Linked DNA regions of Homo sapiens. The protein of the gene in region 2 interacts with the protein of the main gene of each other region in a pairwise test. Each region holds a gene or a part of one and is shown on either strand. Other genes may lie near its edges. The genes, in order: ZMAT1, ABL2 and FBXO38.

What was found.
Region 1: the proteins of ABL2 (region 2) and ZMAT1 interact in a two-hybrid assay, tested with the Homo sapiens proteins (one large-scale study listed by BioGRID).
Region 3: the proteins of ABL2 (region 2) and FBXO38 interact in a two-hybrid assay, tested with the Homo sapiens proteins (one large-scale study listed by BioGRID and IntAct).

The regions. Positions count from the first base shown.
Region 1 is NC_000023.11:101,921,977-101,925,632, forward strand, and holds part of ZMAT1 (zinc finger matrin-type protein 1), read right to left. Parts: intron 1-3,656.
Region 2 is NC_000001.11:179,114,594-179,118,249, forward strand, and holds part of ABL2 (tyrosine-protein kinase ABL2), read right to left. Parts: intron 2,924-3,656; coding exon 2,739-2,923; intron 438-2,738; coding exon 285-437; intron 1-284. UniProt on the Homo sapiens protein: Non-receptor tyrosine-protein kinase that plays an ABL1-overlapping role in key processes linked to cell growth and survival such as cytoskeleton remodeling in response to extracellular stimuli, cell motility and adhesion and receptor endocytosis.
Region 3 is NC_000005.10:148,435,854-148,439,509, reverse strand, and holds part of FBXO38 (F-box only protein 38), read right to left. Parts: intron 1,179-3,656; coding exon 1,012-1,178; intron 1-1,011. UniProt on the Homo sapiens protein: Substrate recognition component of a SCF (SKP1-CUL1-F-box protein) E3 ubiquitin-protein ligase complex which mediates the ubiquitination and subsequent proteasomal degradation of PDCD1/PD-1, thereby regulating T-cells-mediated immunity.

The DNA.
Region 1 (3,656 bases), on a different chromosome or scaffold from region 2:
GGACATAGTTAGATAGAAATTCTATTGGATCCCAAACAGATCTAATATATACTTATATTTTTTATTTTAAGTTTCACCTTCTTAGAGTCAAACAACCATTTCCAGGCTTTCAAGATCTTTTTGGATCTTCTAGAATCTGCCACCAGGAGGCTCATGGAAGAGGGGTTTCCACTGAGAACAAATTTATAAAATGGGTGTTGTTTTCCAGAGGCTACTGTACACTGCCACATTCTCCTCAGGTTGCATTTCCTCTAAATTTGACATGAATTTGATGATGTCCACTTTCTAAAAGTCATACCTAAGACTTGGAGAGGTTAAACAGTTTGCCCAAAGTCACACAGTTGATAAGTGTCAAAGCCAGGATTCAAATCTAAGTCTGCCCAAGATTTCCCTGAGCTCACTCTTAGAAAGGCTAGGCCTTTTTTTTTTTTTCCTGAGATGGAATCTTGCTATGTCATCCAGGCTGGAGTGCAGTGGTGTGATCTTGGCTCACTGCAACCTCTGCCTCCGGGGTTCAAGTGATTCTTCTGCCTCAGCCTCCCAAGTAGCTGGACTACAGGCGTGCACCACCATGCCCGACTAATTTTTGTATTTTTAGTAGAGACGGGATTTCATTATGTTGGCCAGGCTGGTCTTAAACTTCTGACCTCAGGTGATCCGCCTGCCTTGGCCTCCCAAAGTGCTGGGATTACAGGCAAGGCTAATCTTAAAAAGAGACTTGATCTCCAGGCTTGACATATGTAAGAAACATATGTCTGATTCACAAGAGATGCTAAATGTTTCTTTCGATCCACCCGACCCCCAACCCCCACTATTTGAGACATGATTTTTGGACTCCCAGAAAAAAATGACCAATAGCCAATTCTGGAAGTCGAGAGGAAACTGGTGACAATACAGATGTCTTTCAGCCTGTTTCAGGGTGACAGCTTAGAGGAAAGGCCAGCCTCAGGGAGCAGATGTTCAATTAGAGGATAGGTGAGCAGATAATGTTGACTGTGAGGAAGATGACTGGGACAGGAACTAATGCTTACTGAGAACTCACTACCTGCCAGGAATAAAACTGTTCTGGCATAGAATTGGGACTTAGGAGCTGATTCTAGTAGAAATGGGAACCAAGGGATAGCTGAAGAAACTTGGGGGCATCTTCCTCTCTTCTCTTCTTTATACTCTCACCATGTCTTTTCTCTTCCTTAACTGATTAGAATATGAAATAAATCTATTTTTATTGGTTGGTTGTTAAGTGTGGGTTTATACTGATTCTTAATTCCAATAGTAAGAGTTGTAAAAAGCATTAGGATGAGAGAGACTGCATTAGTTTTCACCCTGCTATTAACTAGCTGTGTGACTAAGAACATATCACAGCCTTTCAGATTTCTGTTTCTACCTGACTTTATATGGGTTGATGGTGATCAATGAAAAAATATATTTTAGATTGGAATATATACGGAAGCAAAATTTTGGTGGGGTACTTACAGAGGACCCAAACACCTAGCTGCTTCCAAATACGAAGCACAGAAGATGATTTAAAGTTTTAAGCAGCTATACAGTTAACACAAACCTTTAAGGGCCTAAAAAATCAAAGGGTCCCAATATTTCTTCTCTTAATCTTCCATTATCTTTATTTTCTTGTCTATGTCCTAACCCTAAAGCTGGTTCTCTCCAAAATATCTCTTTGTAAAGATCTATGAGGCATTTCTATTACCAAGTGTAATATTTTAATAATTGCAACTAGAGTTAAAAAGAAATTTTTCTGCAAAATTAGTATTTTGGTTATGATTTAGGTACAACAGTTGAGTTTTCCCCAATGATAAATGTACAAAATTCATGGCAGATGGTCTTTTATCTTTCAATCTAATTAAGAAAGAAATTAGGAGAGCTAGGGTTAAAAATATAAACAGATTACACATTAGAATATCAAATGACAACATACTAAATATTGTGAAGTATGATTTCAAGTCTCATCTGGAAAAAATACATGTCTTTGAAAATGGTATGGTAAATACTTCCTGGTTAATTTTAGGCATATTTTTTCAATATTTCTAGCCTAGAATTTTTCAACTGTTCTTCATTCCCTGGTACATTTGAATTTTTTTATGCTACTATAAACTTGGAAAAGAGATAAGGATAGAGGAGCAAGTTTTTTTTTGTTTTTTGAGATGAAGTCTCACTCTGCTGCCCAGGCTGGAGTGCAGTGGTGAGATCTTGGCTCACTGCAACCTCTGCCTCCCGAGTTCAAGTGATTCTCCTGCCTCAGCCTCCCAAGTAGCCAGGATTACAGGCATGTACCACTGTGCCCGGCTAATTTTTGTAATTTTAGTAGAGATGGGGTTTCACCATGTTGGCCAGGCTGGTCTCGAACTCTTGACCACAGGTGATCCACTCATCTCGGCCTCCCAAAGTGCTGGGATTACAGGCGTGAGCCACCGTGCCCGGCCAAGGAGCCTACTTTAGTGAAACTTGGTATTGAGATCTTAATGACACAAAGGCATGCTCTCAAGTATGAAGTGGAATATACCATCTTTAAAATATACAGGAATTTCTGATGCTGATATCATTTATTTCCATTTTAACATGAAACAAAAGCAATGGGGAATAAGAAAGTACTATCAAAACCTAGGTTCAAAATGGGAAGATAACCTATATCTGATAATGAAGTAAGGGTTTAAAAATAATAAGATGTGGAAAAGATAAGACCAATGTTTACTAGATGGTCCCATTTATACTCAGGGTATAAGAGGGTAAAATTGCTTTGCAATGCTGTGCTTTGTGGTAATAAGAAACTATTCAAGTTGCCAACTGTTAACAAATTAAGCATGACTTTTAAATATATATTACTTTCCATAAATACATCAGAAAGTTCTTCAGAGTGGAGAAATATGGTCATATAACAAAACTATGACCTATACGTACAGAGTTTCAATTTGGGATGATGAAAAAGTTCTGGAGATGGACAGTGGTGAAGCTTGCTTGGCAATGTAAATGTAGTTAATGCCACTGAATTTCACACTTAAAATGGCAAAGTTTATGGTGTGCATATTTTACAATAAAACATAAAATAAAATATTGAAAAAAATAAAAGATAAAAGCATCTGAATCACTGCATGAAGGACAGCTGCCCTGCAGAGTCAACCTGCTGCTCAGAGGAAACTGCATGAGCAAGTGATGGTTGTTTTGCTACCATGACATAAACAATCCACTTCTGAATAACATTTATGATGGTTATTTGAAATGAAATGGTAGTTTTGTGACAAATTATAAATGGGATCTGATCAGAGAGCTCATATATTCCAGTAATGTATTTGATTACATTTAAGTGTGGCTTCAGCATTTGGTGGGAGAAATGAATAAACTCCAATTTTCTATAAATAAGAGTGTTTTACCTCTTCATTTCCCTCTTACAAGAAATGTTTTCATGACCTAAGAAAATAAATCTTTCATAATAATTTGTAATGGGGAGAAAAACTATGACCTACAGTACTGGGATGTTGGAAAAAAATAAATAAGATTCTGAGTTGGTCAAACAGATTCAAATCCCATCTTTACCCACAACTATATAGCCTTCAGCAAATTATGTAACCACTATGGACCGTTTTTTATTTCACCTAAAAGGTACAGAAATACAATGTGTAATTTTTAATTCTAGGATTTGGTGAATG
Region 2 (3,656 bases):
GGCCCTCCCCACCTTAATCTCTAAACTCAATTTCTTATCTTATTAAATATGCAAATGTCTCTGAGAAACTGGGTCAATATTTGGGCCATAACAACTATGCTTAGGATTCCAATAAGATTCAATGGTATATGATATGACAACTGGCTGATCAATGATAAACTCTTTAAATGTCATGAGGCTGGATTCAATCTAACAACACTGAGAGGAGAAATGTTTCTAATTTTGTTAACTATTCTGAACTGCTAGCTTATGCCTTCAAAATTAAAACATGCAAAAATACTCACATGCTCTCATAAGTTCATAAACCTTAGGGGGGCATCCCTCAGGCTGTTCCATTCGATATCCTTTTTCTAGTAGGTCATAGACCTGAGACAGGTCAATACCTGGATATGGTGACATTCCATAGGTAGCAATTTCCCACAACAATACCCCAAAAGCTGCATAAGGAATTAAAAAAAGCACTTAGTGTTTCTTCTCCGATTATTTATTTTACATAATTAGGTGATTCTCTTTCATATTTTAGGTAACATTCACACACTGTTACAACAACATTAATATATAATATACTCTTTTATCAATTCTTACAGCATGATTTGTCCTTCTAAAATATTTGCAACAGGAATGCTGCAGATAATCTCAAGACAGTTTTATTTAAATTTCCCAATTTTTATTTAGATTTCCTTTACTGTAATGAGGGAAAATAAACTATGACCATTTAAGAAGTCTGAGGCATAATCCAACTATTCTTAGAAAAGTTTTTGATATACAGTAGTCACCCCTTATCCATGGTTTCACTTCCCACAGTTTCAGCTACTCACAGTCAACCAAGGTCCAAAAATATTAAATAGAAAATTCCAGAAATAAACAATTCTAAAGTTTTAAATTGCATGCTGCCTTGAGTTGCATGATGAACTCTCAAGCCATGCTTCTCCTTCCCGCCTCGCACATAAATCATCCTTTTACTCAACATATCCACACCGTAGATGCTACCCACCCCTTAGTCACTGAGAAGACCTCTCGGTTATCAGATCAAAAAAAGATTATATATCCAGGGCTTGACACTATCCTTGGTTTCAGGCATCCAAGGGGGGGGTCTTAGAATGTATTCTCCTGAGGATAAAGGAGAACCACTGTATCTAAGAAGCATAACAGTTTTAAAGTCAGCTAATACAAGAGGAGTAAAATAAAAATGGATTCATTTAAAATCAGATAAAATTCAGAGCAGAAAAAAATTTGTTTGATTTTGTCTCAGTTATTTGAGTTTGAGATTTCCAGTAAAAAATGACTTAGAATCCTATGACTATTTCTATTGGTCCACAATCCAAATTTCCAGATTGTTCAGTCTACTAAGCTTCAACCAAATCATATTACCTCTCAGAGCAGTAGAAACCAGATCAATTAGGACAAATTCTAGAGGAAACCTCATCACACTTCCCTCGAAAAAAAAAAAAGCTCTGTGTCACAGTACTCTGCAAATGAGTGATAAAACCTAATGTGAGGCTGAGCACAGTGGCTCATGCCTGTAATCCCAACACTTTGGGAGGCCAAGGCAGGTGGATCATTTGAGGTCAGGAGTTCGAGACCAGCCTGGCCAACATGGCAAAACCTCATCTCTACTACTATGACAAAAATTAGCCGGGCATGGTGATGCATGCCTGTAGTCCCAGCAACTCTGGAGGCTGAGGCAGGAGAATCGCTTGAACCCGGGAGATGGGAGGTTGCAGTGAGCTGAGATTGTGCCACTGCACTCCAGCCTGGACAACAGAGCAAGGCTCTGTCTCAAAAATAAAAACAAAAAACCTAATGTGGAAATAGGATGCTTTACAGAGGGAGGATCATTAGCACTCCAATGCAATAAGAGATCTAGACTGTGAGCTCTCTGAAGGCAGGGACTTCTTTTTTAAAACTTTCTTCTTTCTTTTTTTTTTTTGTTTGAGACAGAGTTTTGTTCTTGTTGCCCAGGCTGGAGTACAATGGTGTGATCTCAGCTCACCGCAACCTCCACCTCCCGGGTTCAAGTGATTCTCCTACCTCAGCCTCCCAAGTAGCTGGGATTACAGGCATGCATCACCACACCCAGCTAATTTTGTATTTTTAGTAGACACAGGGTTTTTCCATGTTGGTCAGGCTGGTCTCAAACTCCTGACCTCAGGTTGTCCACCTGCCTCGGCCTCCCAAAGTGCTGGGATTACAGGCATGAGCCACTGTGCCTGGCCCTAAACTTTCTTCTTTATACTTTTTTTTTTTTTTTTCTTTTTAGACAGAGTCTCGCTCTATTGCCCAGGCTGGAGTGCAGTGGCGCCATCTTGGCTCACTGCAACCTCTGCCCTCCAGGCTCAAGCAACTCCCCTGCCTCAGCCTTCAGCCTCTTGAATAGCTGGGATTACTGGCGCATGCCACCACGCCTGGCTAATTTTTGTAGTTAGTAGAGATGGGAGTTCACCATGTTGGCCAGGCTGGTCTCGAACTCTTGACCTCAAGTGATCCACCCATCTCGGCCCAAAGTGCTGTAATTACAAACGTGAGCCACCACACCAGGCCTATACTTCTGTTTATGCAAAGTTCTTAACACAGTCCTGGCAGATAGGAGGTATTTAACAAATGCTTGCTGAATAACTGAAGAAGAATGGCAGGTAAAGGTAGAGGATACTGAACATCGTAAGAGAAGCTCTAAAGAATCAAGGCATTTATAAAAAAAAAAATAAAATGACACAGAAAAAAGTCCCTTTCAACCTTACCCCAGACGTCAGATTTAATTGAGAAGGTATTGTAGGCAAGACTCTCTGGTGCTGTCCACTTAATAGGAAATTTGGCTCCAGCATGAGCAGTATAAGTGTCTCCAGTCATCAATCTACTTAAGCCAAAGTCAGCCACTTTTACCACATGGTTTTCTCCCACTAGGCAGTTACGAGCTGCAAGATCTCTGTGGGAAAGAGAACCCTAATGTGATTCCATTCAGATGGTGAGGAAAATGGTCATGAACACTCTATTCTTGGTTTTGTGTTATAGGCAGAGTTAAGTAAGTGCTGACAAATATGGTAGTATCTTCTGATAATCACTAACACCTTAGAAAGCCACTAATGATATGTCACTGTAGAGCACTCATCAAGATGCGGAATAAAGCAGGCTTTATAAAATGGGTCCCTATTTATAAGTACACTGGGATAGGTGAGCAATAGATGCTTTTCTACAAGACTAAGTTATTTACTAATGCAGAAAACTATTTTAAAAATTCAGCCACTAGGCCAGGTGTGGTGGCTCACGCCTGTAATCCTAGCACTTTGGGAGGCCAAGGTGGGTGTATCTCCTGAGCTCAAGAGTTCAGGACCAGCCGGGGCAACATGGCGAAACCCAGTCTACAAAAAAAAAACAAAAAACAAAACAAACAAAAAAAAACCATAAAAAAACACTTAGCCGGGCATGGTGGCATATTCCCGTAATCCCAGCTACTCAGGAGGCTGAGGTGGGAGGATGGCTTGAGCCCAGGAGGCTGAGGGTGCAGTAAGCTAAGATCGCATCACTGCATTCCAGCCTGGGCGATGGAGCCAGCCTGTCTCAAGAAGGAAAAAAAAAAAAAGCCACTAGATGGTGAAAAAGGATCTTGGATACAGTGCTGGCAAAATAAAGAGAGCTCTCTGGCCAGGCATGGTGGCTCA
Region 3 (3,656 bases), on a different chromosome or scaffold from region 2:
AGACCTGAAAACAGTCTGTCATGCTGGGAATAATTTTGCAAATTCTTCTGTCTAGGGAACTTGGCAATTTATATCTCACTGTTATATTTAAATGCCTACTAAACCAGAGAATCCTGATTGAGATAAATGACGTCAGTCAACTCAGAATCCACTTCTGTGTATGTCCTTTATTAAGTACTGACTGCATTATAGAACTGTGAATGTGTAGTAACATATACCCTATTCAAATGAGACTGCTGCCCAGTCTTTAAGAGAGAATGCATTTTCTTGTCTTCTAGGAGCCTTTGATAACATTGCTTTTTTCTCATGGCATACCCTCCCCCATCTCTAGTTATGAAATCTCACTCGGCCATCTGCGTGGCATAAGTGTTTGTCTCCTTTTTGGGAAGGCAAACTCCTTGAGGGAAGGATCATGTGTTGTGTTTTTATTTGCACCCAGCATATTTTAAGTTTTGAGACACTTGACAATATGATGAACTGACTCTTTTGAGGCCAGGCTTACACACTGATTACAAAGAGGCATTTAAAATTTCCTTTAAACCCTCTTTTGGCATTAAGCACAGAACCTTATATACAATATACTCTTAATAATGATAATGACACTAACAGTAGTTATATGATGGCTTACTATATACTAGCACATGTTTTAGAGTTTCACATATATTAAATATCACAATAATCCTGGGTATATCATTATTATTCTAATTTTACAGATGAAGAAACTAAGACATCGAAGTCAAATAATCTGCTACAGGTCAGACAGCCAGAAATTTAATCAGGCAGTCTGAACCAGAGACTGTGCTCTTAAACCACAGGTAACTTTTAATAAGTATAAAAACCTGTTGAATAACAACTCCCTATATCATACATAACCTGTAAAAACTAAAATATCATTACTGTAGGTTGGGCAAGTGAATGAATGCCAAATCCAAAAGGCTAAAGACTAACAAGAAAAAGAAAAAGAAAAACACCACAATATGTGTATCATCGGAAAGAAGCAAAGCTCGTTACCTGCTGCATTGGGCGTAGGTATATGATGCGGTTTCTCTCGGGTGGCATTCTTAGTATCTGGTCTAGTACCTGATCCATGTTCAGTTTCTTGCACTGTGCATAGTCAAATCGGTTTACAATTGGTGCATTTTCTACCTTTAAATGTTTTAGTACCCTGCACCTGGTAGCTACAAAATGAAAACAATGGTAAGCTCCGTACATATCATCTTTGGAGAGATGGCCTAATTTTTGTTGGCACAAAATACTGCAGTAACAAACATCTTTAACAGAGGTCAAATAATATCATAGAGTACAAATCACAGTTAACAAAAAAATTTGAAAATGTGGTTCTGTTCAATTCAAAAGAAGGTAGAAGGGGCATTAAAGTGCCTTTTTCTAAGATTTTACTGTTAAGAAAACCAAGTCTCAGAAAATGACTTGCCCAGACAGAAACTGTTTAGGAAATATTTATTTAAAAAATGAGTAACTATTATACATTTTTATAGTCAATAGTCAGACCTGAAATAATTCACCTATGTTACCTTACATTCACTCTCAGGAATGAGCAGAGTTGGATTTTAATTCCTGTCACAAACGTAAAAGTAGAACCTTGAAAAAAAAGACCCAGAAACACATTTGGATACTTTGGTCTAAAGCTATTCAGTCCAATCTAGTAGCCATGTGGTTAGTGGTTACCATAATACTGAACAGTGTAGACACAGAACATTAAAGTTCTATTGAAATGCTCATCTAAAACATGATTAGTTTTTCTGTTTGACATATAAAACATGAAGTCAGAAAAAAGTAATTTTGATATAATAAACACATTTAACTGAACTAGTATATCAACTTCAGAAAAATATTTCCTTCTCTTTTTTTAATCTCCAATTTCAACCTGGTCCAATTTTCACTGCAGATTTCAACCAGGTCCAACTTGAGAGAGATCAAATGGAAAAGATTATAAAACCACAGGCTCATTTGTCTGATCTTAACATTTCACAGACATCTGTAACATCCTTGACCCAAATGTCATCATCGTCTTGTGCAATCTAATGTAACTAACTTGACATTTAAACACTGAGAGAGACTCCCGCCTCTCACGTTCATTTTCTCCTTTTGTGACTTGGTGGAAAGAAGGGGAACTGTTGTTGAGGACAGCAACAGAGGAAAGGAGAGCGCTAGATGACAGTAAGGATCCAGTGGTTCTTAGCTATAAAATCCGACATGACTAAGGTCAGTTCTAATCTCATTTAATCATCTCCGCTGTCATTAACTTAGCCACTACCTACAGACTAAGCTAAGATCCTCTCACCACGATAAGCTGAGCCAAACAATTTGGTTTAAAGGGGAGAAGGTTGGGCCTGAGGCCGTGTGATCCATCATTAGGTTAGAGAAGGTACAGGAGAAATCATCAAAGTAAAAAGAAGAAAACTAGTCAGATTCTCGGAGAGCTCAGAGTAGAGAAAGGAATGGAACGAGATGCCGACTGGCAGAGTCTGAAGATTGAGTTTTACATTCTCAGAGCTCAAAGGGTGTAGGTACTGACAGAATGAAAGTTCTTCCAGTGCTACTGTAAGGCTAGGGTGAGTACCCCTACTGTTACAATCTCTGAGCTTTTGAAGAGCCTGTGTTCTCCACTGTAAAAGGAAACTCCAATAGGAGATAGTAATTTAAGATGTTTTAGGACCAAAGACCACATTGGCTGGGATAGAGAAAAGTACTACTACTTCAGAGTAAACAATAGAGTCTGGGGTCCCCAAGGTCTGAACTTTTGTAGAATTCAGAGGAGAAGTAGTGCTTGAATCTCAGTTTCATCTCTCCTTTCTTGGGTTCTCCTCAGTTTATGACAATATGTTTGGTAAATACCTTTTAATGGGATTTCTTTGTTTACTACTAATATGGTAGGAGATATAAAACAAAATAGACCTCAATATTTTTTGGCAATACAGGTTGACGAACCTTTATCTGAAATGCTTGGGACCAGAAGTGTTTTAGATTTCAGATTTTTCTTCAAATTTTGGAGTATTTGCATTATATACTTACCCTAATCAAAAAAATCTGAAATCTGAAATGCTGCTCCAATGAATATTTCCTTTGAGCATCATGTTAGTGCTCAGAAAGTTTTGAATTTTTAAGCACTTGGGCTTTCTGATTTTTAGATTAGAGATGCTCAACGTGCACTAACATAATACAAATTAACATCACTAGGCATTACTAGAGGTCAGACCCTGTACTGTGTGTGTGGGTGTGTGCATATGTCATGTATATATATACATATACAGGCATTTCTCATTTTATTGCACTTTATTGTGCTTCGCAGACATTACACTGTTTACACAAGGTCTGTGGCAACCATGAATTGAGCATCTACTGGTGCCATTTTTTTAGTAAGCACGTGCTCCCTTTGAGTCTTTGGGTTACACTTTAATAATTCTTGCAGTATTTCAAACTTTTTCATTATTATTTTATCCATTATGGTGGTCTATGATCAATGATCTCTGATGTTACTGTTTTAATTGTGGGGTGCCACAAACTGCACCAATATAAGTGAACTTAATAAATGTTGTGTGTGTCCTGACTGCTCTCCCAACAGGCTGTTCCCCTGTCTCTCTCCCTTTCCTCAGGTCTCCCTACTCCCTGAGATACAATGATGTCGAAATTAGGCC